Homo sapiens: one gene and its partners. The protein of the gene in region 2 purifies or fractionates together with the protein of the main gene of each other region. This does not show direct contact. Each region holds a gene or a part of one and is shown on either strand. Other genes may lie near its edges.

Region 1 (6,684 bases), on a different chromosome or scaffold from region 2:
TTTTTAAAAATTTCCCTTTAGACATCTCCTTTGACTCGTGGATTATTTAAAAGTGTGTTGTTTAGTTTCAAGCGTATGGAGATTTTCCTGTGTTATTTCTTTTATTAATTTCTGGTTTCTTTTCACTGTGGTTGGAGAAAACGATATGATTTCAGCAATTTTAAATTAGTCGATGTTATTTAATGTCCCGAGATATGGTTTGTTTCAGCATATGTTCCAGAGGCACTGGAAAAGAATGGGTATTCTGTTGTTGGGTGGAGCGTTCTATAAATGTGGATTGGATCCTTGTAATTGATGATGTTTATAAGTTCTATGTTCTTGCTGATTTTCTGTGTAGTTCTGTCAATGGTTGAGAGAGAGGTGTTGATGTATCCACCTATAATTGTATATTTGTCAATTCCTCTTTCAATTGTATCAGTTTTGCTTTATACATTTTGCAGCTTTGTTTGGTGTATACACATTTGGGGTCACTTTACAAGGCTCTGTTTATTTTTTTTTCTGTCTAGTTTTTTTGTTTCTTTGTGGGTTTTTTTGTTTGTTTTTGTTTTTTTTTTGTTTTTGTTTTTCAGACGAAGTCTCGCTCTGTTGCCCAGGCTGGAGTGCAGTGGTGCGATCTCAGCTCACTGCAACCTCTGCCTCCTGGGTTCAAGCGATTCTCTTGCCTCAGCCTCCTGAGTAGCTGGGATTACAGGTGTGCGCCACCATGCCCTGCTAATTTTTGTATTTTTAGTAGATATGGGGTTTCACCATGTTGGTCAGGCTGGTCTCAAACTTCTCATCTCAGGTGATCCATCCACCTCGGCCTCCCAAAGTGCAGGGATTACAGGTGTGAGCCACCACGCCCAGCCTTTTTTTGGTATTTTTAGTAGAGACAGGGTTTCGCCATGTTGGCCAGGCTGGTCTAGAACTCCCGACCACAGGTGATCCGCCCGCCTCAGCCTCCTAAAGTGCTGGGTTTACAGGCGTGAGCCACTGTGCCCAGCCTTTTCTGTCTAGTTTGTTTCTGTTGCTCAGTTGACATTTTCTGTTGTTTTGTCTTCCAATTCACTAATCTCTCTATCCCCTTCATTCTGCTGAGTCCATCCACTGAGCTTTTTATTTTGGTTATTATATTATTCAATTATAAAATTTCCATTTTTTTTTTTTTTGTCTATCTACTGTGTTGAGGCTTCTTTATTTAAGAAAAAAGTGATACATGATGTGGGATTAAAATCAAGAACATCATTGAACTTCACCTTCCCTCCAACCAGTTGCCCCAAACTCCCCTGCCCCCACCCTTTGTGTTCCCAATTCCTTCCTTAGTGAATGAAGAACTTAATCCCAAAAGCCCTGGCACAAACTCCAGGTGCTCTTTCCCTAGCTCCTCCCCTCCCCCTGTCCCCCATTCCTAGAAGGGCAGGCACCTCAGTTTGAATGCATGGGAGAGCCCAGAGTGGTGACGGAGACAGGGGGAAAGGCTTCCCCCTCAGGGAAAGGGACCGAGGAGTACAGTGCAGTGAAGTGAGGGCTCCCATAGCCTGGGGTACCAAAATGGGGCCCTGGGGCCAGAGGAAAGGACACTGGTCCCCCTGAGAAAGGAGACCCAACAGCCTCAAAATCCTCTCGTTGTGCATAGCCACTGCTTGATCGCTTGCCCTTCTGGCGCCGGTTACAGAACCACACTCGGACCACATCCTTCTCCAGCCCAAGCTGCTGGGCGATGTGGCTGATCTGCTGCAGTGTGGGTTTCGGGCACCGCAGGAACAAATTCTCCAGGTTGCCTCTCACTTGGTTCTCGATACTGGTTCGCTTTCTCTTTCGGGCCTGCACGAGGGTTTCTGCTTTGCATATCTCCTGAAGATTTTCATTGTTGTCAGCTTCCTCCACCCACTTCTGCAGCAAGGGCCGCAGCTCACACATGTTCTTGAAGCTAAGCTGCAGAGCCTCAAAGCGGCAGATGGTCGTTTGGCTGAACACCTTCCCAAATAGAACCCCCAGGGTGAGCCACATCGGCCTGTGTATATCCCAGGGTGATCCTCTTCTGCTTCAGGAGCTTGGCAAATTGCTCGAGTTCTTTCTGCAGAGCTTTGATGTCCTGGGACTCCTCCGGGTTTTGCTCCAGCTTCTCCTTCTCCAGCTTCACGGCACCAGAGGGGACGGTGCAGGGCTCCGGGGAGGCCCCATCGGAGTTGCTCTCCACCCCGACTCCTGCTTCGCCCTCAGGCTGAGAGGTCTCCAAGCCGTCTTGGGGCACTAGCCCCACTCCAGTCTGAGGCCCACAGTACGCCATCCCCCCGCAGAACTCATACGGCGGGGGACATGGGGGAATCCCCCACTCCTCAGAGCCTGGCCCAAACCCCGGCCCGATTCCTGGCCCTCCAGGAGGGCCTTGGAAGCTTAGCCAGGTCCGAGGATCAACCCAGCCCGGCTCCGGCCCCCCTGGCCCATCACCTCCACCGCCTGGAGGGGGTGAGAAGGCGAAATCCGAAGCCAGGTGTCCCGCCATGGGGAAGGAAGGCGCCCCAAGCATGGTGAAATCTTGGTTTTTCTTTATATCTTCTAGTTCTTTGCTGAAACTTTCTAGTTTTTCATTTGTTTCAAGCATGTCTGTATCTTCTTGTTGAAGCGTTTTTGTTTTTTGTTTTTTTTTAATCATGGCTGCTTTTAAATCTTTGTCAGATAATTCTAACAATTTTATTATCTTTTTTTTTTTTTTTTTTTTTTGAGACAGGTTCTCGCTGTGTTGCCCAGGCTGGTCTTGAACTTCTGGGATCAAGCGATTCTTCTGCCTCAGCCTCCCAAAGTGCTGGGATTACAGATGTGAGCCACCGTGCCCGGCCCCATTTTTGTTGTCTTGATTGTAGGCATCTATTGATTATTATATTTTATTAAATTTGAAAACTTACTGGTTCTTAGCATAATGACTTATTTTCTATTGAACTCTGGATATTTTTGCATTATATTCTCAGAGTCTGGATCTTATTTAAACATGTTTTCGTAATAGCTGGGCTTTTCAGATGGCACTTCAGCAGGAGAAAAGGGGCCCTGCCTCATTACTGCCTGATTGAGGTAGACTTGGCTTCCTTGACACCTGAGGGGCAGGGGCTCCTGGTTGCATCTGAGTGTGGAGGGGAGTTCCAGCTTCCATGTGCTCTCTCTTGGCTCTTAATTTTAATAATACACACACTTTTAAGAGTGATTATTTATATTGCACGTATGTGCCCCTCTTCCCAATACAGAGACAGCCTGGAGCTGTTGCCCAAAGAATTGGAAGTCATTTAGTTCCAACTGCTACTTTATTTCTACTGAATCAGCATCTTGGCAAGACAGTGAGAAGGACTGTGCTAGAATGGAGGCTCACCTGCTGGTGATAAACACTCAAGAAGAGCAGGTACTTTCTAATAGATAATGGGGCTGTGAGCCCTGCCTGATCTTTGTATATCTCTCTTGGCTAAGAAGGAGGTTTTTGTTACTTTGGGATATTTGCGCTGTGGCAGAAGGCTTTCAATAAAATAGGTAGAAAGGGCTCCTAAGCCTTTATATTCCATACCTCCTTCCTGCTTCAGTAAAACTAACCTCCCCGGAAGAAATTGTGACATTAAAAATATATGAGGGTTGAATGGAAGGATGAAAATGTTTCAGTCTGAAATATCAATTTGTTATTTCAATATGTAAATGTTTTATACATGATTAACTACTTAACAAAGAAGAGGTATTAAGTTGAATAGAGAAAAGAAATAAAGTTAACTCATGATGAATCACAATCAACACTCAGGAATGAAAATAAAGAATCCCTGAAGTTATGAAAGGAAAATGACTGAATCTGCCAAAATTTTCTCATGTACAACTTTGAAGAATGTAATCCCTTAGTGAAGAAAAGAGGGGAAGTAAACCTGAGATGAGAATTCATTCTGATCATAGAAATTGCTTCCATACTGGCTGGGCATGCTAGCTCATGCCTGTAATCCCAGCACTTTGGGAGGCCAAGGCGGGCGGATCACTTGAGGCCGGGAGTTCAAGACCAGCTTGGCCAAAATGGTGAAACCCAGCCTCTACTAAAAATACAAAAATTAGCCAGGCATGGTGGCACACACCTGTAGTCCCAGCTACTGGGGAGGCTGAGGCATGAGAATCGCTTAAGCCTGGGAGGCAGAGGTGCAGTGAGCCAAGATTGCACCACTGCACTCCAGCCTGGGACAGAAAGTGAGACTCCATCTCAAAAAAAAAAAAAAAAAAAAATTCCTTCCGTATGTACTGAACATCATGCTTACAAGCGATGTCTTTGATTCTGCCCTGCTCAGCCAGAGATCCCCATTCCTACGTAGAGCTCTAATGCAGCTGTTGCTGGATCCTCTCCTTTTCTTCTTGTTTCTCTAAGGTATTAAGAATTCAGTTTAAGCTGAATACTGTAAAGGCTGTGACTCCTTCTTTTCCCCCCTCAGGATTTCATCTTCCAGAATCTGCAAGAAGAATCTGCTTATTTTGTGGGGCTCTCAGATCCAGAAGGTCAGCGACATTGGCAATGGGTTGATCAGACACCATACAATGAAAGTTCCACGTGAGTATAGAATGAGATAAAAGAATCTTGGGTCCTGGATCATGCAGAGAGCTTAGGGTATTCTAGCTATCAGCTATAAAAGTAAAATAGCTCACTCTTCTTTTAGCTCTTGGGTACTAGGTTAAATAATTTCATTATCTCATTTAATCTGCGCAAGAACCCTATGAGGCACACATTGTTATTTTTCCCACTGTAGATATGAGGAAATTGAGCTTGGAGAGTGTAGATAATTCAGCTAAGGTCACCCAGTGGTGTCAACAATTGTTCTCAAATCAGGTGGATCTTACTGTGCTTTTAACCCGTATATTTACCTGTCTCTACATAGTGAAAACCCATGTTGATTAAGATCATAACCAATTATTAAGATTTAATAATGCTTTTTTTTTCTTTTTTGAGACAGGGTCTTACTCTGTCAACCAGGCTGGAGTGCAGTGGTGCAATCATGGCTCACTGCAGCCTTGAATTCCTGGGCTCAACTGATCCTCCCACCCAAGTCTTCTGAGTTGCTAGGATGACAAGTATGTGCCACCACACCCAGTCAGGCTGAAGATGTAATGCTTCTTATGAAGCAAAAATGCTAAATTCTGATAATCTTATATCTCATATTTATGTAATTCTTTAATTGCATAAATTACATACTTTACATATATTACATAAATTACATAAAATACATACTTTACTGGATTACCACCTTCGATCTTCATATCCACTGTATGAAATAAATAGTGATATTACTCTAGTCCTTATTTTTTAGATAGAAAAACTGAGAATCAGGGAAGTTAAATTACTTGTCCAATAACAAGGATAAGTAGAAGATTCAAAAGATTTTACTAGTTCTCTAGACTTTAAAAACAGTGCATTAAAAAAAGGAAAAAACTCTATTGATAAGTGGGACCAGGGTAAAATCTTTTCATCATACAAGGACACCCTATAGGTTGATGGACCCATAGGAACAGGACATAAGGATGGACAAATAGAAGAGAACCTCTAGAAAATCTATGGTGAGGATATTCAAAGCAGTAAGGTAGAGAACATTGAGTGACATAGGCACAGTTTTCAAAGGAAATGCCGGAAATGCAGATGGAGGAGAAGCTGCATGATGAGTAGCAGAAAGGTGGATTTGGGCATATCTGACCCTATGTTCCATGAAATTCATCCCTCGCTCCTCACCCCTGTCTCTAACCCTTTTCAAAGCTCTGTTTGAAGAAATGCCCTCATCCTTTTTGTCGCTTTCAGATTCTGGCATCCACGTGAGCCCAGTGATCCCAATGAGCGCTGCGTTGTGCTAAATTTTCGTAAATCACCCAAAAGATGGGGCTGGAATGATGTTAATTGTCTTGGTCCTCAAAGGTCAGTTTGTGAGATGATGAAGATCCACTTATGAACTGAACATTCTCCATGAACAGGTGGTTGGATTGGTATCTGTCATTGTAGGGATAGATAATAAGCTCTTCTTATTCATGTGTAAGGGAGGTCCATAGAATTTAGGTGGTCTGTCAACTATTCTACTTATGAGAGAATTGGTCTGTACATTGACTGATTCACTTTTTCATAAAGTGAGCATTTATTGAGCATTTTTTCATGTGCCAGAGCCTGTACTGGAGGCCCCCATTGTGCACACATGGAGAGAACATGAGTCTCTCTTAATTTTTATCTGGTTGCTAAAGAATTATTTACCAATAAAATTATATGATGTGGTGTCTCCTCCTGTCTGGTTTTCTCTTCATCCCTACTATACTGATATATAATTGTATATATATACTGACATATATATATATTATATTTTATATATATATTATAATATATATATATACACTGACAAATAAAATTGTATATATTTAAGGTTTACACTGTGGTGATTTGACATACATATATATTGTAAAATGATTACCGTAATCAAGTTACTTAACCCACACCCATTATCTTACATAGTTAACAATCTTGTGTGTAGTGAGAACGTTTAAGATCTACTCCATTCTGTCCATTGGTATCAACAAACACAAAGCAAGATCTACTCCCCAAAAAATTTCAAGTGTGCAATGCATCATTATTAACTATAGTCACCATCCAGCACATTAGATCTCTAGAACTTCGTCATCTTAGAACTGAAAATTTGTACCCTTTGACCAACATTGCCTGATTTTCTC
Region 2 (8,160 bases):
ATACCTTGCAAGCCATGAAGAATCTACAGGCTACTGGAATTAATAAATGAAGTTAACAATGCCACTGGATACAAGGTCAACATACAAACATGAGTTCTATTTCTATTTAGCAACAAAAAAAGTGAAAAATTTAAACATTATGCACAATAATTTCAAAAATAGCAGCTATTTATAAACAAATCTAGTTGAATATGTATAAGACTTCTACATTGAAAACTAAAATATGAGAAAAATTAAAGAAGATCTAAATAATTACAGGAATATACAATGTTCACTAATTGGAAGACTCAATGTTGGGAATATGTCAGTTATCTCTTAGTCAATCTATAGATTCAATAAAATCTTAAACAAAATTCCAGCAGCTTTCTTTGTGAAAATTAATGAGCCGAGCATTAAGTTTATTTGAAAATACAAAAACAGTAATAACCAAAGGAACCCTGATGAAAAGGAACCAAACTAGAGATACCACACCAAAGTCACAATCCGCAGAATAAAGAGTTAATAAGCTGGACTTCATTAAAATTAAAACTTTCTGCTCTGCAAAAGATACTATGAAGAGAATGAAAAGACAAGACATAAACTAGGAGAAAATATTTGCAAAAGGCATATCTGATAAAGGACTGTTATTCAAAATATACAAAGAACGACTAAAACTCAGCAACAAGAACCCAATTTAAAAATAAGGCAAAGACCTTAAGAGACACCCACCAAAGAAGGTATACAGGTGGCAAATAAACATATGAAAAGATGCTCCATATCATATGTTAACAGGGAAATGCAAATTAAAATAACAGTGAAATATGACTACACACCTATTAGAATGACCAAACTTCAGGACACTGACAGTGCCAAATGCTGGTAATGAGAGCAAAAGGAGCTCTCATTCATTGCTGGTGGGAATGCAAAATGGTACAGACACTTTGGAAGACAGTTTGGCAGTTTGATACAAAACAAAATATACTCTTACCATGTTATCTAGCACTCATGTTCCTTAGTATTTGCCCAAAGGAGTTGAAAATTTATGTTCACACAAAAACTTGCACAGAGACGTTTATAGCAGTTCATTCATAATTGCCAAAACGTGGAAGCAACCAAGATGTCGTTTAGTAGGTGAATAGATAAACAAACTGCAGTTCATTCAACCCATAGAATACTATTCAGCATCAAAAAGAAATGACCTAACAACCCATGAAAAGACATTGAGGAAATCTAAATGGATATTACTAAGTGAAAGAAGCCAATCTGAAAAGACTACATACTGTGTGATTTCAACTACATGGTGCTCTAGAAAAAGCAAAACTGTGGAGACAGTAAAAAAATCCACTTGCATTGGGTTCTAGGGGAGGGAGGGAGGTATAAATAAGTGGAGCACAGGGGATTTTTAGAGCAGTGAAACTACTTTGTATGATATTATAAAGGTGAATACACATAATTTTAAATTTGTCCAAAGCCATAGAATATACAGCACCAAGAATGGGCCCTAATGTAAACTATGGACTCCAGGTTATAATGACGTGCCAATGTAGATTCATCAGCTGTAGCAAATGAACCACTCTGGTGGAGGATGTTGATAATGGGTGAGGCTGTGCTTGTGTGGGGACAGGGGCATATATGAAATCTCTGTACTTTACTCTCATTTTTGCTGTGAACCAAAAACCATTCTAAAAATTTAGTCTACTTTTAAAAAACTGGAGAACTTACTTCTCAGATAACAAAACTCATGATAAAGCTATAATAATTAACACAATGAGTTATTGTAGGATAAACAAGATTGAATAAAACATCTTCAGAGCTATGGTTACCTAATTTATAACAAAGATGACATTTCAAAAACAATGGAAAATGGATTGTCTTTTAAATAGATGGTGCAAAGGTTTAAAGCATTCAGATACTTACATTTTAAACCTTTTGACTCCAAACTCATTCACTTGAAAAGTTAATTTCAGGTTGATTATAGCTTTAAATATGAAAAATGGAATAATTAATCTTTCAAAATACATCATACAAGAATATTTTCATGACCTTGGAGTATGTGAACATTTAAATAGAACACAAAAAAATGCTAATCATACATGAAACTTATTGACAAATCTGACTAAAGGTAAGAAATTTTATTCATCAAAGACACATAATAGACTTGAAATAAAAACCATAGAGTGGGAAAAGATATTTGCAATACATATATCTTAAAAAGGACTTATGCCCAGAATATATGAGAAACTTCTGCAGATCAATAAGCAAACAGGCAAATGCCTCCCCCCAAAAAAGTAAAAAGGTTTGCATAAGCCCTTCACAAGATTGTATCCTAATGGCTGATAAACATGAAAATGTGCTCAAATTGTTTAATCATCAGGGAAAATGCTAACTAAAATTACAATATCATATCACCATACACTAACCAGAGTGGTTTAAAATGGAAAAGATAGCATCAAATGTTGACAAGAATGTGGAGCAACTGGAACTCTCATACTTTGCTGGTATTAGTACGACTACTTGAGAAAACTTTCTCATTATCTGCTAAAGCAAAATATATGTGCACATCTTAATGCATAGCAATCCAACTCCTTTGAATATATTCAACATAAACACATATATGTGGTCACCAAAAGACTAGTACAAGGATGTTTATACCAGTACTACCCCAAAGAGCTTAAACCTGGAAAACAATGTTCATCAACTGGAGAATGAATAAATAAATCATAGTATATTCATACAACAGAATGATATAAAGCAATGAGAATAAAACAAATAAGAACAAGATGCCACAGATCAATTTGCTGAACATAATATTGAGGAGAAGAAGCCAGACACACGAGAGTAACAATCTATAACTCCATTTGTATAAAGTTAAAAAAAAAAAAAGCAAAAAAAACCTATGACAACAGAAGTCAGGACAGTGCTTATCTTTTGGGGAGAGGGTGGTAACCAGACAATAGCAGGTGGGGACTTGGGTTTGGGTAGTATTTTTAATCTAGGTTCTACTTACAGGAGTGTGTTCACTTTGCGAAAATTCATTGAGTTATACACCTATGATTTGTGCCATTTTCTGGGTGTTATTGGTGTTTACTTCAAAGTGAAAGTAATTTTTCTTAAACTTTAAATTTCTATAGATATTCCTGATCACTTATTTAATATAATCAAATAAGAAACACCAAACAAAGTGTATTTGTGTACTCAAGGGTACTTTTATGGAGATTAATATATAATTTTAGTTTTTTTCTCAAAAGTATTTTCTCACTGAAAATTAACTCCACAACATTTATTTAGAACTTTCAGCAACTAAGAGCTGGAGATACCATCGGGAGAGCTTATGTGACAAAAGGGTATGGATACACGTCAGTTAGAATTTAGGATGAAATGGCAAATACTATATGCAATAGTAAATTAGGACGCCTGGTGGCGCTGCAGGCTAAGAGTGTGGATAGTGGGCTCTGCGGATAACTCAGACGCCATTAAGCTGGGGAATCCAAACTCTAAAAGAAGGACGCATTTTAGGTAAGATCTAGTGGCTAGATCTTCAGGGTGGGCTTCGTTCTTGTGGAAATCAGTCAAGAAAGATCGGATTCGCGGTTATTTATGCAAATCATCTGGGTGGATTGTGTACGGAGTTAAACTGCGCCTTCTGGACCGGGTCTGAACAATGGAGACTGCGCTAGCAAAAACGCCACAGAAAAGGCAAGTTATGTTTCTTGCTATATTGTTGCTTTTGTGGGAGGCTGGCTCTGAGGCAGTTAGGTATTCCATACCAGAAGAAACAGAAAGTGGCTATTCTGTGGCCAACCTGGCAAAAGACCTGGGTCTTGGGGTGGGGGAACTGGCCACTCGGGGCGCGCGAATGCATTACAAAGGAAACAAAGAGCTCTTGCAGCTTGATATAAAGACCGGCAATTTGCTTCTATATGAAAAACTAGACCGGGAGGTGATGTGCGGGGCGACAGAACCCTGTATATTGCATTTCCAGCTCTTACTAGAAAATCCAGTGCAGTTTTTTCAAACTGATCTGCAGCTCACAGATATAAATGACCATGCCCCAGAGTTCCCAGAGAAGGAAATGCTCCTAAAAATCCCAGAGAGCACCCAGCCAGGGACTGTGTTTCCCTTAAAAATAGCCCAGGACTTTGACATAGGTAGCAACACTGTTCAGAACTACACAATCAGCCCAAATTCACACTTTCATGTTGCTACGCATAATCGCGGAGATGGCAGAAAATACCCAGAGCTGGTGCTGGACAAAGCGCTGGACCGGGAGGAGCGGCCTGAGCTCAGCTTAACACTCACTGCACTGGACGGTGGGGCTCCGCCCAGGTCCGGGACCACCACAATTCGCATTGTCGTCTTGGATAATAATGACAACGCCCCCGAATTTTTACAATCATTCTATGAGGTACAGGTGCCCGAGAACAGCCCCCTTAACTCCTTAGTTGTCGTTGTCTCCGCTCGAGATTTAGATGCAGGAGCATATGGGAGTGTAGCCTATGCTCTATTCCAAGGCGATGAAGTTACTCAACCATTTGTAATAGACGAGAAAACAGCAGAAATTCGCCTGAAAAGGGCATTGGATTTCGAGGCAACTCCATATTATAACGTGGAAATTGTAGCCACAGATGGTGGGGGCCTTTCAGGAAAATGCACTGTGGCTATAGAAGTGGTGGATGTGAATGACAACGCCCCTGAACTCACCATGTCTACGCTCTCCAGCCCTACCCCAGAAAATGCCCCGGAAACTGTAGTTGCCGTTTTCAGTGTTTCTGATCCAGACTCCGGGGACAACGGTAGGATGATTTGCTCCATCCAGAATGATCTCCCCTTTCTTTTGAAGCCCACATTAAAAAACTTTTACACCCTAGTGACACAGAGAACACTGGACAGAGAGAGCCAAGCCGAGTACAACATCACCATCACTGTCACCGACATGGGGACACCCAGGCTGAAAACCGAGCACAACATAACGGTCCTGGTCTCCGACGTCAATGACAACGCCCCCGCCTTCACCCAAACCTCCTACACCCTGTTCGTCCGAGAGAACAACAGCCCCGCCCTGCACATCGGCAGTGTCAGCGCCACAGACAGAGACTCAGGCACCAACGCCCAGGTCACCTACTCGCTGCTGCCGCCCCAGAACCCACACCTGCGCCTCGCCTCCCTGGTCTCCATCAACGCGGACAACGGCCACCTGTTTGCCCTCAGGTCGCTGGACTACGAGGCCCTGCAGGCGTTCGAGTTCCGCGTGGGAGCCACAGACCGCGGCTCCCCGGCGCTGAGCAGCGAGGCGCTGGTGCGCGTGCTGGTGCTGGACGCCAACGACAACTCGCCCTTCGTGCTGTATCCGCTGCAGAACGGCTCGGCGCCTTGCACCGAGCTGGTGCCCCGGGCGGCCGAGCCGGGCTACCTGGTGACCAAGGTGGTGGCGGTGGACGGTGACTCGGGCCAGAACGCCTGGCTGTCGTACCAGCTGCTCAAGGCCACGGAGCCCGGGCTGTTCAGCATGTGGGCGCACAATGGCGAGGTGCGCACCGCCAGGCTGCTGAGCGAGCGCGACGCGGCCAAGCACAGGCTGGTGGTGCTGGTCAAGGACAATGGCGAGCCTCCGCGCTCGGCCACCGCCACGCTGCACGTGCTCCTGGTGGACGGCTTCTCCCAGCCCTACCTGCCGCTGCCGGAGGCGGCCCCGGCCCAGGCCCAGGCCGACTCGCTCACTGTCTACCTGGTGGTGGCATTGGCCTCGGTGTCGTCGCTCTTCCTCTTTTCGGTGCTCCTGTTCGTGGCAGTGCGGCTGTGCAGGAGGAGCAGGGCGGCCCCGGTCGGTCGCTGCTCGGTGCCCGAGGGCCCCTTTCCAGGGCATCTGGTGGACGTGAGCGGCACCGGGACCCTATCCCAGAGCTACCACTACGAGGTGTGTTTGACCGGAGACTCAGGGGCCGGCGAGTTCAAGTTCCTGAAGCCGATTATTCCTAACCTTTTGCCCCAGGGCGCTGGTGAAGAAATAGGGAAAACTGCTGCCTTCCGGAATAGCTTTGGATTAAATTAGAGATCTCGTGATGACGCGTTGTTTTCTGCCATTTATCCCAAACTTTTTCAGATCTAGAATTCGAGAGTGTCATGGACAAAAATTTCACCTTGAGATTGAGCTTTTATTTCCCTTTTTAATGGATTTGTCTGTTGAACTTCATGCTGTCCAAGTGTTGAAAAGTCAATTTTATTTCATTGCATTTATTTACATAGTGTCATTCCAAATCCATGCATGCTGTTGATTTTCCTGAGATTTTTTTCTCTTCTTGTTGGTATTTGTTGTGATAAACCACCTTAATAAAATCAAGTATTAATTTTATTTTCTATATATTCTGCCCATTCTATTTCATCACACTCTTAAGTATTATATATTTGATGCTAAAATGCAAAAATTAAAAATGTTTCACATCATCATATTTTAATTGTTTAAAACAAAGACAAATACATACATATGCTAACAAATGAAATATGTGAAAAAATATGTAAAAGGAAACAATCTTCTATTTACTCTTTTTTGCAGCCCTGAGTCCTATTAGCAAACTTTTTAAAAACAGTTTAATTGAATTATTACTTACATGAAGAAAAATGAACAAATCCTTTATGTTCAACTCAATATATATTCACAAAGTAACATATTTATTACCAGCAGCTTGAAGAGAAAATGAAACATCACTGGCACCCCAGGTGCCACACAAATTACTCCTTACAATCACTACTACCCCAAGTATAGCAAATATGCTGACTTCCAATACCATAGTTTAATTTTGCCTCTTCTGAATTTATATAAATGGAGTAATAAAGTATGAACTGCTTGTGTCTGGCTTTTTTCACTCAGCATTATGTTTATGAAATTTATCCATAATACAGCTTTTAAGTTTAGTCCTTTCATTCTCATTGCTGTATAATATTCCACTGTATGAATATACCACAGTTTATTATCTATCCTTTAGATCAGTATTTGGGATGGGGCAAAGTTTGGCTGTTATGAATTATACTGCTATAAACATTCTTTTAACATGCCTTTTGCCAACCTGTATATGCAGTTTTGTTGGGTATATGCCTAGGAGTGGAATTGTTGCCCATCTTGCAAGTACACGTTGACTTTTAGCAGACATTTCCCAATAGTCTTCCAGTGGTTGTACTAATTTACATTGCTATTCCCAGTGTCTGGATGTACAAATTTTTCCACATTTCTGCCAACAAACTGGTATTGTCTGTTTTTCATTTTATCCCATTGGCAAGCACTTTATACAGTTTTTAAAGCTCTTATATTTACTTGCTTATCACTAAGGAATATGTTTGTAACCATTATGAGCTGAACTGTGTTCCTATATCCCCCTCAAATTCATATGTTGAAACCCTAACTCCCACTACCTCAGAATGTGACTATGTTTAAAGATAGGCCCCTAAAAACAGGTAATCACATTAAAATGGGTCCTTAGGGCAGAACTTAATCCAATATAACTGCTGTACTTATAAGATGAGGAGATTAGAACATAGAGAAAGAGATGTCAGACATGTAAACACACAGAGGGATGATTATGTGAAGACACTAGAAGAAGATAGCCATCTACAAGCCAAAGAGAGAGGCCTCCAAATGAAACCAACCCTGCCAACACTTTGATCTTGGACTTCTAGATTTCAGAACTGGGAGGAAAGAAATGTCTGTTGTTTAAGCCACCCAGTCTGTGGTATTTGTTACAGCAGCCATCACAAACTAATGTAGTAACTTTCACAAACTTTAGACAATTAATTTCCTATCATGATTGCTGAGTAACTAGCACACTTAAAACAACTTCAATCTTTTGTTTTTCAGAGGTATCTATATTACTATTTTTGGGTACTTCTCTGGTCAATCTGAAACCTTTCTTTATTGTTCCAGTAACAACAGTTTCATTAGATTTTTGTATGAAGAAAAGAATAGCATTCTTATTCTTCTTTTTATATCTGTTTCTCTCTTAACACTTTCCAACCTCTCTCAGTTGAACTTCTACTCTTACATTTTATTTTTACAACCATAGCTAAGAATTCCTTGTCTTGTCTATAGATATATTTTATTTTATTTTATTTTATTTTGAGACGGAGTTTAGCTCTTGTTGCCCAGGCTGGAGTCCAGTGGCACGATCTCGGCTCACTGCAACCTCCGCCTTC
Region 3 (7,439 bases), about 95 Mb from region 2:
ACTGGAAAGATATATTACTTATTATTTGTATCATAGGTTCATTTAAGAAAATTATATTCAACTATATCTGCTTGATCAAAAACCACAAACCAAAACAACATCACCACCACAAAGCAAGATAAATAGTATTTGTAATTCTGCATTATTATACTCAATGCACCTATGTCCTATAGTGAGCAGGAAACCAGCAGAATGCATTTAGTATGATTTTCAGGTGATAATCTTATCATTCTGAATATAATTCTTGTGTTTAGCAGATAATTCACTTCATTATTTAGAAACAACAATTGGGCTCCGGAAAAGAACTTTCAAATAGAGTCTCTTGTAAGTACAGTGCAAATTATTGCAGATCATTAGCACTACATGAAGAGTACTGAGCATTTGCAGGGTCTGTGACAAATTTTCATTTTATCATTTTGTGTAAAGGAGTAACAAACTATGAATTAGGCTGACACTATATATTTTAGTTGTAGAAATAGTGATAATAAAGAAAAAAGTCTGCATGCACTATGAAAATTATATTTTCTCTAAGTACTTTTCTTCTAAAAATAATTTTCTTTGTGAAGGCATCTGGATGTACAACTTACCATTAGTTTTACAGGAAAAAAAAATCAGGATTCCTGGTGCATCCTGGAATTTTATGTTTTTGCAAAATAAACCTTCATGGCTCTGTTAATTCTATTTGTATATATGTGCTACAGAAACTATTCAAGGGACTTTGTAGAAGAATATATATAGAAGTAAAGAATATATATAGAAGTTGATTATTTTTGAGTTGAGTGTTTATCTGACACATTTCACCCAACTTTGATAAGATTGATTTCATGACTCTTTCAAGTTATGTTAGTTAGTTTTCTCATAGTATTTTTCTATTTTGTCTAATAGTTGACCACGCAGTTAAAGCAAGGAAGCAACATTACTCATGCTTTAAATTTACAACTTATAATTTTATTTATATAAACCTAATTTTATTTTCAGGTCACTAGCTGTAACTCTAAAAACATAAGGCTAATTTTACATACATACAAAGTTAGTAAATATTTATAAATTTTAGACTATCAGCTTTGTTGTATACAGTTATTCAGTATTTTTTAAAAAGTGCTGCAACAAACATCTTCGCACCTTACTCTTCATTGTTTTGGCTAAAGTTCAGGGAATGGAATGACTGCCTATGAACATTCTAGAGATTCTATACATATTGATTTGACCAATTAATACTGCCTCCAGTTTACAGATTTCTTAAAATGACACGAATAACGTAGGTTCTCCAAGGTTGACATTCCTGTTATGATATTTACAGGCTGTTTTAGGACAGAAAATGTAACCTGTCCTCCATTTCATTCAACATAGAGTGACAAGAGTGATCTTTAAAAAGCAAATCTAATAATATTGTTATGCTCTTTAAAACCTTTAGTAACTTCCCATTACTGTTAGACTACATTGGACAAACTTTCTATGAGCTTCAAGACCCTGCATAATTTCAGCCGATATATGCAGCCTCATTACATGCCACTCATTCCAGCTCTGTGTTCCAGCCACTTGGGTAAATTTTTAGCTCCTAGAACAACCTGAGTTCTCTCCTGCAACTAAGATTTTAATGTGACATTACCCCCAAGCTTGAAATACTCTTTTCACTTTTTATCACTCCACATAACTAGTTTCTACTCATCTTTTAGATTTCCATTTAATCATTGTGCACACACTTATTTTTCTATCTAGGCTTTCTGTTCAGCAGAATTTATAATTATTTTTATATGTGTCCTTTCCCTGGAATTTAAACCATGCTACCTTATGAATCTTACTCAGTTTTACATTCCCAATGTTGTAAAAATGCACATAATAGACTTTTCTTGCCAAACTTTCTTAGAGGCTTCATTTTTTTTTCTTCAACTTTTATTTTAACTTCAGGGGTAAATGTGTGGGATGTGCAGGTTTGTTAAATAGGTAAACATGTGCCATGGTAGTTTGCTGCACAGATCATCCCATCACCTAATTATTACATACAGATATGGTTTATTTTTAACAGCTTTTTTGAGACAAAATTCATATACCATACAATTCACCCATTTAAAGTAAGCAATTCAATATTTTCTAGTAAGTTCACAGTTATGCAGCCATCACCACAATCAATTTTAGAATATTTTGTCATCCTAAGGAGAAACCCCATATGCATTAGCACTCACTTTCTCTCCTCTCCCGCCCTCCCGCTCAGCCTTAAGCAACCACTAATCCTCTCTCTGTCTCTGTAGATTTTTGCTTATTCTGAATATTTTATATCAGTGAAGTCATGCAATATATAGTATTTTTTATTGGCTTCTTTCACTTAGCATAATGTTTTTTCAAGGTTCATTCATGCTGTTACCTGTGTCAGTACTTTATTCATTTCCTTGCTGAATAACATTCCATTTTATGGATATACTACCTTTAATTTATTCATTTATCAGTTGATGGACATCTGAGTTGTTTCTGCTTTTTGGTTATTGTAAATACTGCTGATATGAATATTCTCGTACAAGTTTTTGCACAGAGATGTTTTCATTTCTCTTTGGAGTGAAATTTCTAGGTCATCATAACAGACCTGTAATAAATATTTATTGACTGAATGGACAAAGAATTATTCTCCAAGCAGGTCATGAGAACATTTAATCTTAGAGTTAATAAATTCAGATGAAAGCAATGAAAGCTCTTATTTTTTCCTACAGTAATACCTGGCATCTCCTTCCCACTGGCACCTGCAAGTATGTGCCCCAACTATTACATTTCCCTGCCCAATACACAGATGAATAAATGAAACTGCAGAGAAGTTATGTAGCGTGAACATGGTGACATAGATAGATAGTAAGAACTGGGCCAGGAATTCAGTTCTTGTGAATATTAATTTTGTCACTTCAACTCTTTTACATAATAAGAAACAAGGCTGCCAGTATAAATAATTCTCCAAACCTTCTGGGAAACGTGATGGATTGAACCTAATCATTTATACTTCCTCCCTCTTGAAGTCACTCCAAAATAATATGAAAAAGCACAGACACATTGGTAAGTAGAAGAAAGAGGAGACATCAGAGAATATAGATCTCAAGAACATTTGTAAAATAGGAAGTTAATGGACAAATTATTCCACTTCCACAATCCTTCACCCATTGAAATCCAGAAGAATTCAGGACTTGGAAATGCCAGTTATGAAATAGTTCCAGGAAAGCCAGACTGAAAACAGAATTAAATAAGGGTTTCCTTAGTGAATACAGAACTCCCTGTGCTCACATTAGGATGCTTGGAGCCAGGCCAATTTTTCTCAGTCGGGAAACTGGAGAAAATACCTCCAAAGGGAGACATTTCAAAGTCTTCAGATAAAAAATCATGTTTATTGCCTAATCACTCTGCAAAAATTCCCGCATGTGTACATTGAGGCTGTGATTATATTTTTGGTATGGCATTGGTTAATATGGAACTGAAAGCAAAAGATAACCAGACATTTGAGAAAAGTCTCATGAGGGAAGACTAAATCAAGCAGAGAAAGACTAAATCAAACAGCCAAAGAAGGTCCAGAGGGATGGCATAAGGAGAAATGACAGTATTATAAAAAATACTCCACAAATGATATCTTCATAAATATTTTATCTGCACAATAAGAACACGTTGCTATGAAAAAAATAGTAAGAAATTTAAAAAACAGCTCTTGGATGAAATGTGTTAGCAGATAAAGTCTAGGAAGCCCGTTAGAATTAGAACAAAAAGACAAAAGGGAATAGGAAATATAAGAAAATATAGCAAAACCAATAACTAATTTATAAGGTCAAAATCTACCATAAGGTATTCTAGAATGATAAAAAAGTGAAAATGGACATATGGAATTAATAGAGACATTTTTGATAAAATTTTCCAGATAGCAGCAACTGAAATGTCTGTTCTGAGGAACTTATGGAATACTTAGCATCATGAAAGAAAAAGACTGTCCAAGGATCATTACACAGAAGCTTTACAACACCATTGAATAAGCAACAAACAAACAAATGACTAAGACTTTTCAAAGAAAAAGTTACATATCAAGAAGTGGGAATAATACTTTAAGGTAAATGACGATGTAACAAAGTCTGCAAAATTCTGAGAGAAAGTAATCTCCATAAGAAATCCATACCTTGCCATAATACAAAATTTAAATAAAGATATTCAGAAATTAAGAACTCTAGTATTAACTACCCATGTACCCTTTCTTAGAAAGTTATTAGATGACATGTTCCTGCAAAACAAGAAATTACACCAAACAACATGAAGACATAGAAGCTAGGAAATGGGCTCTAACACAGAGAAACCTGAAGTCCCAGGAGTACTCCAAAATAGCTAGCCTTGAAAGAAACCAGTCCAGACTGGGGCGGTAAAGCAAAGCGTTCTGGAGGAAGGCCTTCAGGGTAGGAAAAACAAATAGATGGATATCAGCATTTGATAAATAATGTTACTAGGTGTTCCAGAGATCATTTGGAACAATATATTGATGACTTTCATATTTTGTAGAGTACATTGGAGACAAGTAAATAAACAAAAGAACTTTATTAACTCCAGAATGATCTAAAGGTGTCTAAAAAAGGGAAAAGAATCACAGTTCCTTGCTTGGTTCAACAGTACCTAATGGTTATTTGGTCATAATAATGTAAACAAGTTGACTGTTTTAAATAAAGATTGTGGTGCAATTATTCTAGGTTGGTGGGAGGGCAGGAGAAACGTAAATGTGGTTTGGGTGATGTCAGAAAGCTAAGTCCTTGTGTTCCACAGTTGGCAGCTAATGAATAGTATTTAAAATTGATAAATTAATTTGTCTTTGAAATATGAACTAAACACTAAAAGAAACAATTATGGTGGTTGAATTTGGAAAGTGATATGTAGGGTAAAAGGAAAAGGGAGAGGCTTATATGTTCTCCTTATAATCCTTGATGCTGTTTTGCTTAAAAAAAAAAAAGACTGGGCATATATTATTTTGAGGTAACAATATTAGGAACTGTTTGGGTCAGAATCTGAGCTTCACCACCTTAGTAACTGGACCTTAATTTTCTCAATTATAATAGAAAAAAATATATATATATGTAAAATTCATGGGGTATATAGTATATATAGTGTGTATATATACTGTATATGCTATATAAACATTTCTATATATGTAGTGCTTAGAAGTTATGCTCTGCATTTAATGCTATTTAAGAGTTAGTTATTTGTATGAGTGTAAAATTAAAACAGAATTAAGGCATGTTAGTTGTTTGAAAAATTAAATATTCTCTAAGTACATACTCTAACCGTTTCCATAATTTCTGAAGAAAAAAATATATGAAGGAATGGCCATGTAAATGGTGTGCTGCTATTTCCTTTTTACCTTCATGCAATCCCTGGCAGCAGAAGCCCTGATGTGCAATGCCATATTTTATATATGCTGTGTGAAATTGGTCTAGTCATGAGGCAGTTAGCACTGGAAAACTTTTTTTTTTTTTTGAGATGGAGTTTCGTTCTTTTTGCCCAGGCTGGAGTGCAATGGCACGATGTTGGCTCACCGCAACCTCTGCCTCCTGTGTTTAAGCGATTCTCCTGCCTCAGCCTCCCAAGTAGCTGGGATTACAGGCATGTGCCACCACGCCCAGCTAATTTTGTATTTTTGTTAGAGATGGGTTTCTCCATGTTGGTCAGGCTGATCTCAAATTCCTGACCTTGGGTGATCCGCCCGGCTCGGCCTCCTAAAGTGCTGACGTTACAGGCATGAGACACTGCTTCCGGACGGAAAACTTTTAATATATCCTGTTTCTGCAAAATTTTCCAGTTTAATCTCTTTAGTTGGTATAGAATGCTACCGTATTGAACATTTGGAAATAGCTTTTAGGGAAAATTATAATGGCATTCATTGGGTTGCATGTGCTACTTTCTGTTCATCTTTCTTTTCATCAGAAAATGGCATAGTTAAACCATTTGGGATGTTATTTCAAATCAGTTAAGTATTACATATGAGGCAAATAAGATGAGTTATAACCTGATAAATCTTTCCTTTTCTTTTTTATTGTCATGTTTAACAGTCTAAAAATTGTTATTTAGAAATATAATTATTTCTAGTTAGGAACGTAAAAGAATTTGAGAAATCTATAAATTTGACAGAATTAAAAGAAATCTTTGTGATATCATTTCTAGAGCAGTTGTCACTTATACCCTTGCAGAATGTTTTAGCCTTATTTTATTAAAAAGACAATGCACCTTATTAAAATTTACACTACCTAGGTTGTTTGAGGAACATGAGCAGAGACTGAAAAAATGAATATAGAAAGTTACTTGATTAGTTTTTTGTTTATTTGTTTTTTGAGACAGAGTCTTGCTTTGTTACACAGGGTGGAGTGCAGTGGCATGATCACGGCTCACTGCAACCTCCGCCTCCTGGGTTCAAGCAATTCTCTTTCCTCAGCTTCCAGAGTAACTGGAATTACAGGCATGCACCAACCACACCTAGCTAGTTTTTGTATTTTCAGTAGAGATGGGGTTTTACCATGTTGGTCAGGCTGGTCTTGAGCTCCTGACCTCAAGCAATCCACCCACCTTGGCCTACCAAAGTGCTGGGTTTACAGGCGTGAGCCACCGTGCCTGGCCTATTTGATTAGTTTTTAAAGGGAGAACAACTGTTCCTTATTTTTCCTATAGAATAGTCATTCTTTGTTTAAATAGTATTTTTTAAAAGTTGTCTCTTTTTCTAAACAATAAATTTGATATTTACCCTGAATATCCATGTAAGTGAATTAGAATGAAAAGTTTGGACACCTGTATTTTCTGTGATCTGGATATATATCTAATGTATAAAAAGCAGAAATACATGCTAGAAGCACCAAGTTATGGTTGAATAAGTATTGCACAATATAAATAATCCCATAATTCTATTGGCTATAATTACTGATTATACTAATCATTCATGATTAGCCATTTGTGTTAGTGATTCTAGGCTTGAAGACTCATAAAATACTTCACAAATCACATTAAAGCTATTGACCCTCTGACCCATGCATTTATTTACAATATTTTGCCTGTAATTTCAAAGATTTGTAGTTTCCTTGAAGCACATTTATTTTTGGAACCCAAATTAAGACTTCCTGAACTATCTAATATTGTCATGAAGAAATAGAGACACTAAAAACAGTGTATGGACGATTCAAAGATAGAGACTTTTGCTTGGGCAAGCTACTTAAGAATTATAGCTGAAGCGGGACCAGGCACGGTGGCTCATGCCTGTAATCCTAGCACTTTGGGAGGCTGAGGCGGGCAGCTCTCTTGAGCTCAGGAGTTTCAGACCAGCCTGGGCAACATGGCGAGACCCCGTCTCTACAAAATATACAAAAATTAGGCAGGCATGGAGATGCATGCCTGTAGTCCCAGCAACTTGGGAGGCTGGGGTGGGAAGATCACTTGATCCCAGCAGGTTGAGGCTT
Region 4 (7,439 bases), on a different chromosome or scaffold from region 2:
CACCCAGCTAAGTTTGTAATGTGTTGGCCAGGCTGGTCTTGAACTCCTGACCTCAGGTGATCCACCTGCCTTGGTCTCCCAAAGTGCTGGGATTACAGGTGTGAGCCACCATGCCCGGCCCAGCCATAAATGTTTTTAATACCAATGAACTGGACACTTAAAAATGGCTAAGAGGGCGGGTCTCGGTGGCTCACATCTATAATTCCAGCACTTTTGGAGGCTGAGGCAGGAGGATCACTTGAGGCCAGGGGTTCCAGACCAGCCTGGACACCATAGCAACACCCCCATCTCTACCAGAGTTAGCCAGGCATGCTGGCACAGGTGGTACCTATAGTCCCAGGTCACTTGAGCCTAGGAGTTCAAGGCTGAATGAGCTGTGATGGCGCCAGCACTCCAGCCGCGGCAGCAGAGTGAGACTGACTCAAAAAAAAAAAAATAATAATAAACAAAAAGAAAAGGGGGTTAAGATGATAAATTTTAAGTGATTTGTATTTTACCACAACAAAAAAAATTGGAGGCTGGGCATTGTGGCTTATTTGTAATCCCAGTACTTTGGGAGGCCGCGGGGTGGATCACCTGAGGTCAGAAGTTCAAGACTAGCTTGGCTAACATGGTGAAACCGCTGTCTCTACTAAAAATAAAAAAATAAAAAATTAGCTAGTTGTGGTAGGTGCCTGTAATCCCAGCTACTCGGGAGGCTGAGGCAGGAGAATTGCTTGAACCCAGGAGGTGGAGGTTGCAGTGAGCCGAGATTGCGCCACCGCACTCCAGCCTGGGTGACAGAGTGAGACTCCATCTAAAAAAAAAAAAAAAAGGAGAGGATGGGGAATCCTCTTGCCTTGGCCTCCCAAAGTGCTGGAATTACAGGTGTGAGCCACCGTGCCCGACCAATTCAGTGATGTTTAGTATAGTCACAGAATGATGCAACCATCTTTAAAATCAATCTTAGAACATCTGTTACCCTAGAAAGAAACCTGCTCACTGTAACTATCAAGCTGTAATTCCCTCTCCCCACCCCCTGCCCTAGAAAACCAAGAATCTATTTTCTTTCTCTATGGATTTGCCTATTCTGGGCGTTTCATAGGTGTGAAATCATATACATAGAATTCATGTAAATGGGATTGTACGCTGTGTGGTCTTTCGTGTCTGGTTTCTTTCCCCGAGCACAGTGTTTCTGACGGTCATCCTTGCTGTAGCATGAGCCAGTGCTTCACTCCTTTTCACGGCCGTCTAATATTCCATCTCTATGGATGGACCACATTTTGTTGTCCCTTCATCCACAGATGGGCATTTGGTTGTTTCTACCTTTTGGCTTTTGTGAAGAATGCCGCAGTGAACATTGGTGGATGTGTTTTTGTGTAGACGTATGTTTTCATGTCTCTGGGGTCAGTACCCAGGAGTGGATTATTAATTTAAATCTTTTTCCATCCTGGGTTTTCAGGAGGCAACATCATCCTGGCCTGCCGAGACATGGAGAAGTGTGAGGCGGCAGCAAAGGACATCCGCGGGGAGACCCTCAATCACCATGTCAACGCCCGGCACCTGGACTTGGCTTCCCTCAAGTCTATCCGAGAGTTTGCAGCAAAGATCATTGAAGGTAGGAGAACGCTGGCCATGTGGGATGAGGACTGGGATAGGCGGCTCCCAGGGCCAGGCTCTGAGAAGTGAATGAAGCAAGCAAACTTTAGAGCAGAGTTTTGGCAAACTATGAGTTAGGGGCCAAGTCCAGTTGCTGCCTTTTTTTGTACAGCCTGCAAGCAACGACTTTATTTATTTATTACTACTGTTATTTTGAGAGGGAGTCTCACTCTGTCGGCCAGGCTGAGTGCAATGGCGCGATCTCGGCTCACTGTAACCTCTGCCTCCTGGGTTCAAGCGCGGACCTCAGCCTCCTGAGTAGCTGGGATTAAGATGCCTGCTACCATACCCTGCTAATTTTTGTATTTTTAGTAGAGACGGGGTTTCACCACGTTGGCCAGGCTGGTCTGGAACTCCTGACCTCAGGTGATTCTCCTGCCTCAGCCTCCCAGAGTGCTGGGATTACAGGCGTGGGCCACTGCGCCCGGCTGACTTTGTTTTGTTTGTTTGTTTTGAGACAGATGGGGTCTCGCTCTGTTGCCCAGGCTGGAGTGCAGTGGTGTGATCTTGCCTCACTGCAACCTCCGTCTCCCGATTTCAAATGATTCTCCTGCTTCAGCCTCCTGAGTAGCTGGGATTACAGGCACCCGCCACCGTGCCTGGCTAATTTTTTGTGTTTTAGGTAGAGACAGGGTTTCACCATGTTGGTCAGGCTGGTCTCGAACTCCTGACCTCAGGTGATCTGCTTCCCTTGGCCTCCCAAAGTGCTGGGATTACAGGTGTGAGCCACCGTGCCCTACCTGAATAATTAGTTTGTTTGAGACAGGATCCATCTCTGTCACCCAGGCTAGAGTGCAGTGGTGCAGTCATGGCTCACTGCAGTCTCAACCTGCTGGGCTCAAGGGATCCTCCCACTTCAGCCTCCCAAGTAGCTGGGAGTACAGGCATACGCCACCACACACAGCTAATTATTGTTTTATTGTTTTGTTTTGTTTTTAGAGCTGGGGTTTCACCATGTTGCTCAGGCTGGTCTCCAACTCCTGGGCTCAAGTGATCCACCCAGGTCAGCTTCCCACAGTGCTGGGATTACAGGCGTGAGCCACCGCACCTGACCTTATTAAGCATTTATTGATCAAGTGCCTTCCCCACCATGGTTAAAGAAATATGTGTTTGTTATGGGACATTTATAAAATACTGCAATGTAAAGAAGACAGAACTGGCTGGGCACAGTGGCTCACGCCTGTTAATCCCAGCACTTTGGGAGGCTGAGGCAGGTGGATCCCTTGAGGTCAGGAGTTCGAGACCAGCCTGGCCAACATGGTGAAACCCTGTCTCTACTAAAAATACAAAAATTAGCCAGGCGTGGTGGTGCACACCTGTAATCTCAGCTACTCAGGGTGCTGAGGCAGGAGAATTGCTTGAACCCAGGAGGCGGAGGTTGCAGTGAGCTGAGATTGTGCCAGTGCACTCCAGCCTGGGTGACAGAGTGAGACTCTGTCTCAATAAAAAAGAAGACAGAACTAAACAACTTTGATCTGCACCAGCCCCAGGAGAATCACTTTTATGGATCTTTCTAGTCTTGTTTATAATAGGTTTGTGTGTGTATTTATATATTTTTATGTAAAACTGGGACCATCCTCTAGCTTTTCTATTCTTGTTCATCTTTAAATAGACTCAAGAATACACTAAAATTATTTATTGTTTAGTTGACATGTATACTTGTATATATTATGTACAGCATGATGTACATTGTATACATTGTAGAATGGCTAAATCAAGCTAATTAACATATGCATTACCTCAAATACTTACCTGTTTTTGTGGTGACCACATTTAAAATCTCTTCTCTTAGGATTGCTTGAGCTCAGGAGTTAGAGACCAGCCTAGGAAGCATAGTGAGACCTTGTGTGTACCAAAGATTAAAAAAAAAAAAAAATTAGCCGGGCATCCTGGCATGTGCCTACAGTCCCAGCTACTCAGGAGGCTGAGGCAAGAGGATCACTTGAGCCCGAGAGTTCAAGGCTGCAGTGAGCCGTATTTGTGCCACTGCACTCTAACCTGGATGACAGAGCAAGACCTTTTTTTTGAGATGGAGTCTTGCTCTGTCACCCAGGCTGGAGTGCAATGATGCGATCTTGGCTCACTGCAGCCTCCGCCTCCTGGGTTCAAGCGATTCTCCTGCCTCAGCCTCCCAAGACTATAGGCGGGTGCCACCATGCCCGGCTAATTTTTGTATTTTTAGTAGAGACGGGGTTTCACTATGTTGGCCAGGCTGGTCTCGAATTCCTGACCTTGTGATCCGCCTGCCTCAGCCTCCCAAAGTGCTGGGATTACAGGCATGAGCCACCATGCCCAGCTGCTTTGTTTCTTTTCTAGTCTGGCACTGAAAGGGCCAAAGCTTTCTTCTTCAGAGTCAATGTGCCCCGCTCAGTAAACGGGTACTCAGGAAATGAACAAGGAATGGGGGAGTTGTGGGACCTCATTTATTTAGCAGACGTGATCTCAGACCTGACCAGGTGCTGGAGGTGTGAGATGAACCAGAGCTGTCCTTGTGCCACTCACAGCCCTAGGGAGGCAGGTGCAGGTGCACATTCGTTGGTTCATTCATTCATTCATACTGAGCCCCTGCTGTGCCCTTGGGGATCAAGAAAGAGCCGGCACTGTTGTCGGGTAGGTGAGAGGCACTACGGTGAGATCACAAAGAACAGTGAGAGGGCAATGCCTCAGAGTCTCAGAGGTGGATGAACATTTATTAAGCACCTGCTGTGTACCAGGTACAGCACTGTCACCTTCATGCACACTGTCCCAGGCAATCCCACCCAGGGCGCCTCTGATCCTGTCTCTGGCTTGTGGACACAGGTGTCCGGAGCACTGAGGTCCCTGAGACAGTGAGGACCCCGGCTGGACACACCTGGGCAGGTGATGCCTCCTCTCTTAGCCACACGTTCCTCTTCCGGGAAATGGAATAATTCCTTCTATTTTCTGGGATTCTCTAGAGGGGTTTTTTTTTTTTTCTGAGACGGTATCTTGCTTTGTCGCCCAGGCTGGAGGACAGTGGCACATCTCGGCTCACTCCAAGCTCCGCCTCCCGGGTTCATGCCATTCTCCTGCCTCAGCCTCCCGAGTGGCGGGGGACTACAGGCGCCTGCCACCACGCCCGGCTAATTTTTTATATTTTTTACTAGAGACGGGGTTTCACCGTGTTAGCCAGGATGGTCTCGATCTCCTGACCTCATGATCCAGCCACCTCGGCCTCCCAAAGTGCTGGGATTACAGGCATGAGCCACCACGCCCAGCCTCTCTAGAGGATTAAGTAAAGCTGTGTCTGTGACTTTTTTAGCAAATCAAGTACCAGCTTCTTGGTGTTTTCCTAAGATCAACAGCCAGGAATAAAGACAGCAGTGGATTTAAAAATAGTGAAGATCGTCCATTTTATGTGGTGTGTATTCTACCACACTGGGGCAGGCCAGGTGCAGCGGTTCACGCCTGTCATCCCGGCACTTTGGGAGACAGAAGTTTTGGGAAGATCAGTTTGTGAGATGACACTCTGACAAAGCTGGAAGCTGTGGCTCTTCCCAGCTCCCGACTAGAAAGAACACAAAGCAAAGAGCCCCAGGAAGCAGGTACCCACAGCCTTGTTTATCAGGGAGTTTGAGATCAGCCTGGGCAACATAGCAAGACCTCATCTCTACAAAAAATACAAAACAATCAGGCAGGCGTGCAGGCTCACGCCTGTAATCCCAGCACTTTGGGAGGCTGAGGCGGGCGGATCACAAGGTCAGGAGATCGAGACCATCCTGGCCAACACGGTGAAACCCCGTGTCTACTAAGAAACACAAAAAAATTAGCCGGGCGTGGTGGCGGGCACCTGTAACCCAGCTACTTGGGAGGCTGAGGCAGGAGAATGGCGTGAACCCGGGAGGTGGAGCTTGCAGTGAGCCGAGATGGCGCCACTGCACTCCAGCCTGGGTGACAGAGTGAGACTCCATCTCAAAAAAAAAATAAAAAACAATGAGGCAGGCGTGATGGTGTGCACTTGTAGTCCCAACTACTTGGGAGGTGGAGGTGGGAGGATTGCTTGAGCCTGGGAGGTTGAGGCTGCAGTGAGGGATTTTTTTTTTTTTTTTTTAAGACGGAGTTTTGCTCTTGTTGCCCAGGCTGGTGCAATGACGGGATCTTGGCTCACGGCATCCTCCACCTCCTGGGTTCAAGTGATTCTCCTGCCTCAGCCTCCCGAGTAGCTGGGATTACAGGCATGCGCCACCACGCCCGGCTAATTTTGTATTTTTAGTAGAGACGGGGTTTCTTCCTGTTGGTCAGGCTGCAACCTCCATCTCCTGGTTTCAAATAATTCTCCTGCCTCAGCCTCCTGAGTAGCTGGGATTACAGGCACCTGCCACCATGCCCGGCTACTTTTTTGTTTTAGGTAGAGACAGGGTTTCACCATGTTGGTCAGGCTGGTTGACCTCAGGTGATCTGCCCGCCTCGGCCTCCCAAAGTGCTGGGATTACAGATGTGAGCCACCACGCCCGGCCTGCAGTGAGCTTTGATTGTACCACTGCACTCGGGGTGAGACCCTGTGTCCAAAAAAAAAAAAAAAAAAAAAAAGTTGAGGCAGTTCCCAGATAAACAAAACAACAGGCCAGGCACTGTGGCCCACGCCTGCAATCCCAGCACTTTGGGAGGCCGAGGTGGGCGAATTGCCTAAGCTCAGAAATTCGAGACCAGCCTAAGCAACATAGCCAAACCCCATTTCTACAAAAAATTTTAAAAGTAGCTGCTTGTGGTGTCGGGCGCCTGTGGTTCAGCTATGTGGAAGGCTGAGGTGGGAGGATCGTTTGAGCCCTGGCGGCGGAGGTTGCTGTGAGCTGAGATCGCGCCACTGCACTCCAGCCTGGGCCACTGAGTGAGCTTCCCTCTCATAAAAAGAAAAAAAAAAAAACAGGCTGGGCGCGGTGGCTCACACCTGTAATCCCTGCACTTTGGGAGGCAGAGGCGGGTGGATCACGAGGTGAAGAATTCAAGACCAGCCTGACCAAGATGGTGAAACCCCGTCTCTACTAAAAATGCAAAAATTAGCAGGGTGCGGTGGCGGGCACCTGTAATCCCAGTACTCGGGAGGCTGAGGCAGCAGAATCGCCTGAACCCAGGCGGTAGAGGTTGCAGTGGGCCATGGGCCAAGATCACACCACTGCACTCCAGCCTGGGTGGCAGAGTGAGACTTCATCTCAAAAAAAAAAAGAAAAAAAACCAAAACAAAACACCAGAAGCTGGCGGCACTCCTGGGCGCCCAGCTGTGAGTGGAGTCTCCCTGTCCCGCCTTTGGGCCTTACCCGTGCTGCGCCTGCTGCCTGCATCCCCCTTCCCTGGGTCTCCGCACGTGGGCCCTGCCTCATTTTCCCGGTCCCAGTTTCTGCGTCACCTCCTGAGAGGGGCCTCCTGTCAGCTTCCACGCAGCTCTGTCACGGGTAGATTCTCTCACGAGTGGAAGTGGCTCTCAGCTGCACTGGAATGTCCGGTCCACACGGACGGGGCCTCGGCTGTGCTGTCCACCCTGTATTTCCAGTGCCCAGTAATAGGTGCTTAGAAAATACTTACTGAATGAGTAAGTATACAGTTGTACCAGGCAGGTGATGTTATTATCCTTTTTTTTTTTTTTTTTTTACAAGGAGTAAACTGAGTCACAGAGAAGTGATGTGACTTGGCCAGGATCATGCAGCTGGTCGGGGTGGAGCCAGGCTTTGAACCTGTCTGTCCTGCTCCAGAGCTGGTATTCATGACGGGTGTGCTGCAACCCCCTCCTTCTCACACAGAGAACCAGATGGTGTCTGTGTGTTACGCGCTGGACACCTAATTCACGA

Evidence for each region.
Region 1: the proteins of PCDHB5 (region 2) and CLEC4A purify together in Homo sapiens (co-immunoprecipitation; one large-scale study listed by IntAct). This does not show direct contact.
Region 3: the proteins of PCDHB5 (region 2) and HCN1 purify together in Homo sapiens (co-immunoprecipitation; one large-scale study listed by IntAct). This does not show direct contact.
Region 4: the proteins of PCDHB5 (region 2) and RDH13 purify together in Homo sapiens (affinity purification with mass spectrometry; 2 studies listed by BioGRID and IntAct, with this or other methods). This does not show direct contact.

What each region holds. Positions count from the first base shown.
Region 1 is NC_000012.12:8,132,367-8,139,050, forward strand, and holds the end of CLEC4A (C-type lectin domain family 4 member A), read left to right. Parts: intron 1-1,402; exon of another isoform or gene 1,403-2,486; intron 2,487-3,218; coding exon 3,219-3,370; intron 3,371-4,421; coding exon 4,422-4,537; intron 4,538-5,773; coding exon 5,774-5,921; 3' UTR 5,922-6,241; downstream 6,242-6,684. UniProt on the Homo sapiens protein: C-type lectin receptor that binds carbohydrates mannose and fucose but also weakly interacts with N-acetylglucosamine (GlcNAc) in a Ca(2+)-dependent manner. Involved in regulating immune reactivity.
Region 2 is NC_000005.10:141,131,795-141,139,954, forward strand, and holds PCDHB5 (protocadherin beta-5 precursor), read left to right. Parts: upstream 1-3,411; 5' UTR 3,412-3,640; coding exon 3,641-6,028; 3' UTR 6,029-6,821; downstream 6,822-8,160. UniProt on the Homo sapiens protein: Potential calcium-dependent cell-adhesion protein. May be involved in the establishment and maintenance of specific neuronal connections in the brain.
Region 3 is NC_000005.10:45,683,749-45,691,187, reverse strand, and holds part of HCN1 (potassium/sodium hyperpolarization-activated cyclic nucleotide-gated channel 1), read left to right. Parts: intron 1-7,439. UniProt on the Homo sapiens protein: Hyperpolarization-activated ion channel that are permeable to sodium and potassium ions. Displays lower selectivity for K(+) over Na(+) ions.
Region 4 is NC_000019.10:55,050,811-55,058,249, reverse strand, and holds part of RDH13 (retinol dehydrogenase 13 isoform 1 precursor), read left to right. Parts: intron 1-1,441; coding exon 1,442-1,597; intron 1,598-7,439. UniProt on the Homo sapiens protein: Retinol dehydrogenase with a clear preference for NADP. Oxidizes all-trans-retinol, but seems to reduce all-trans-retinal with much higher efficiency. Has no activity toward steroids.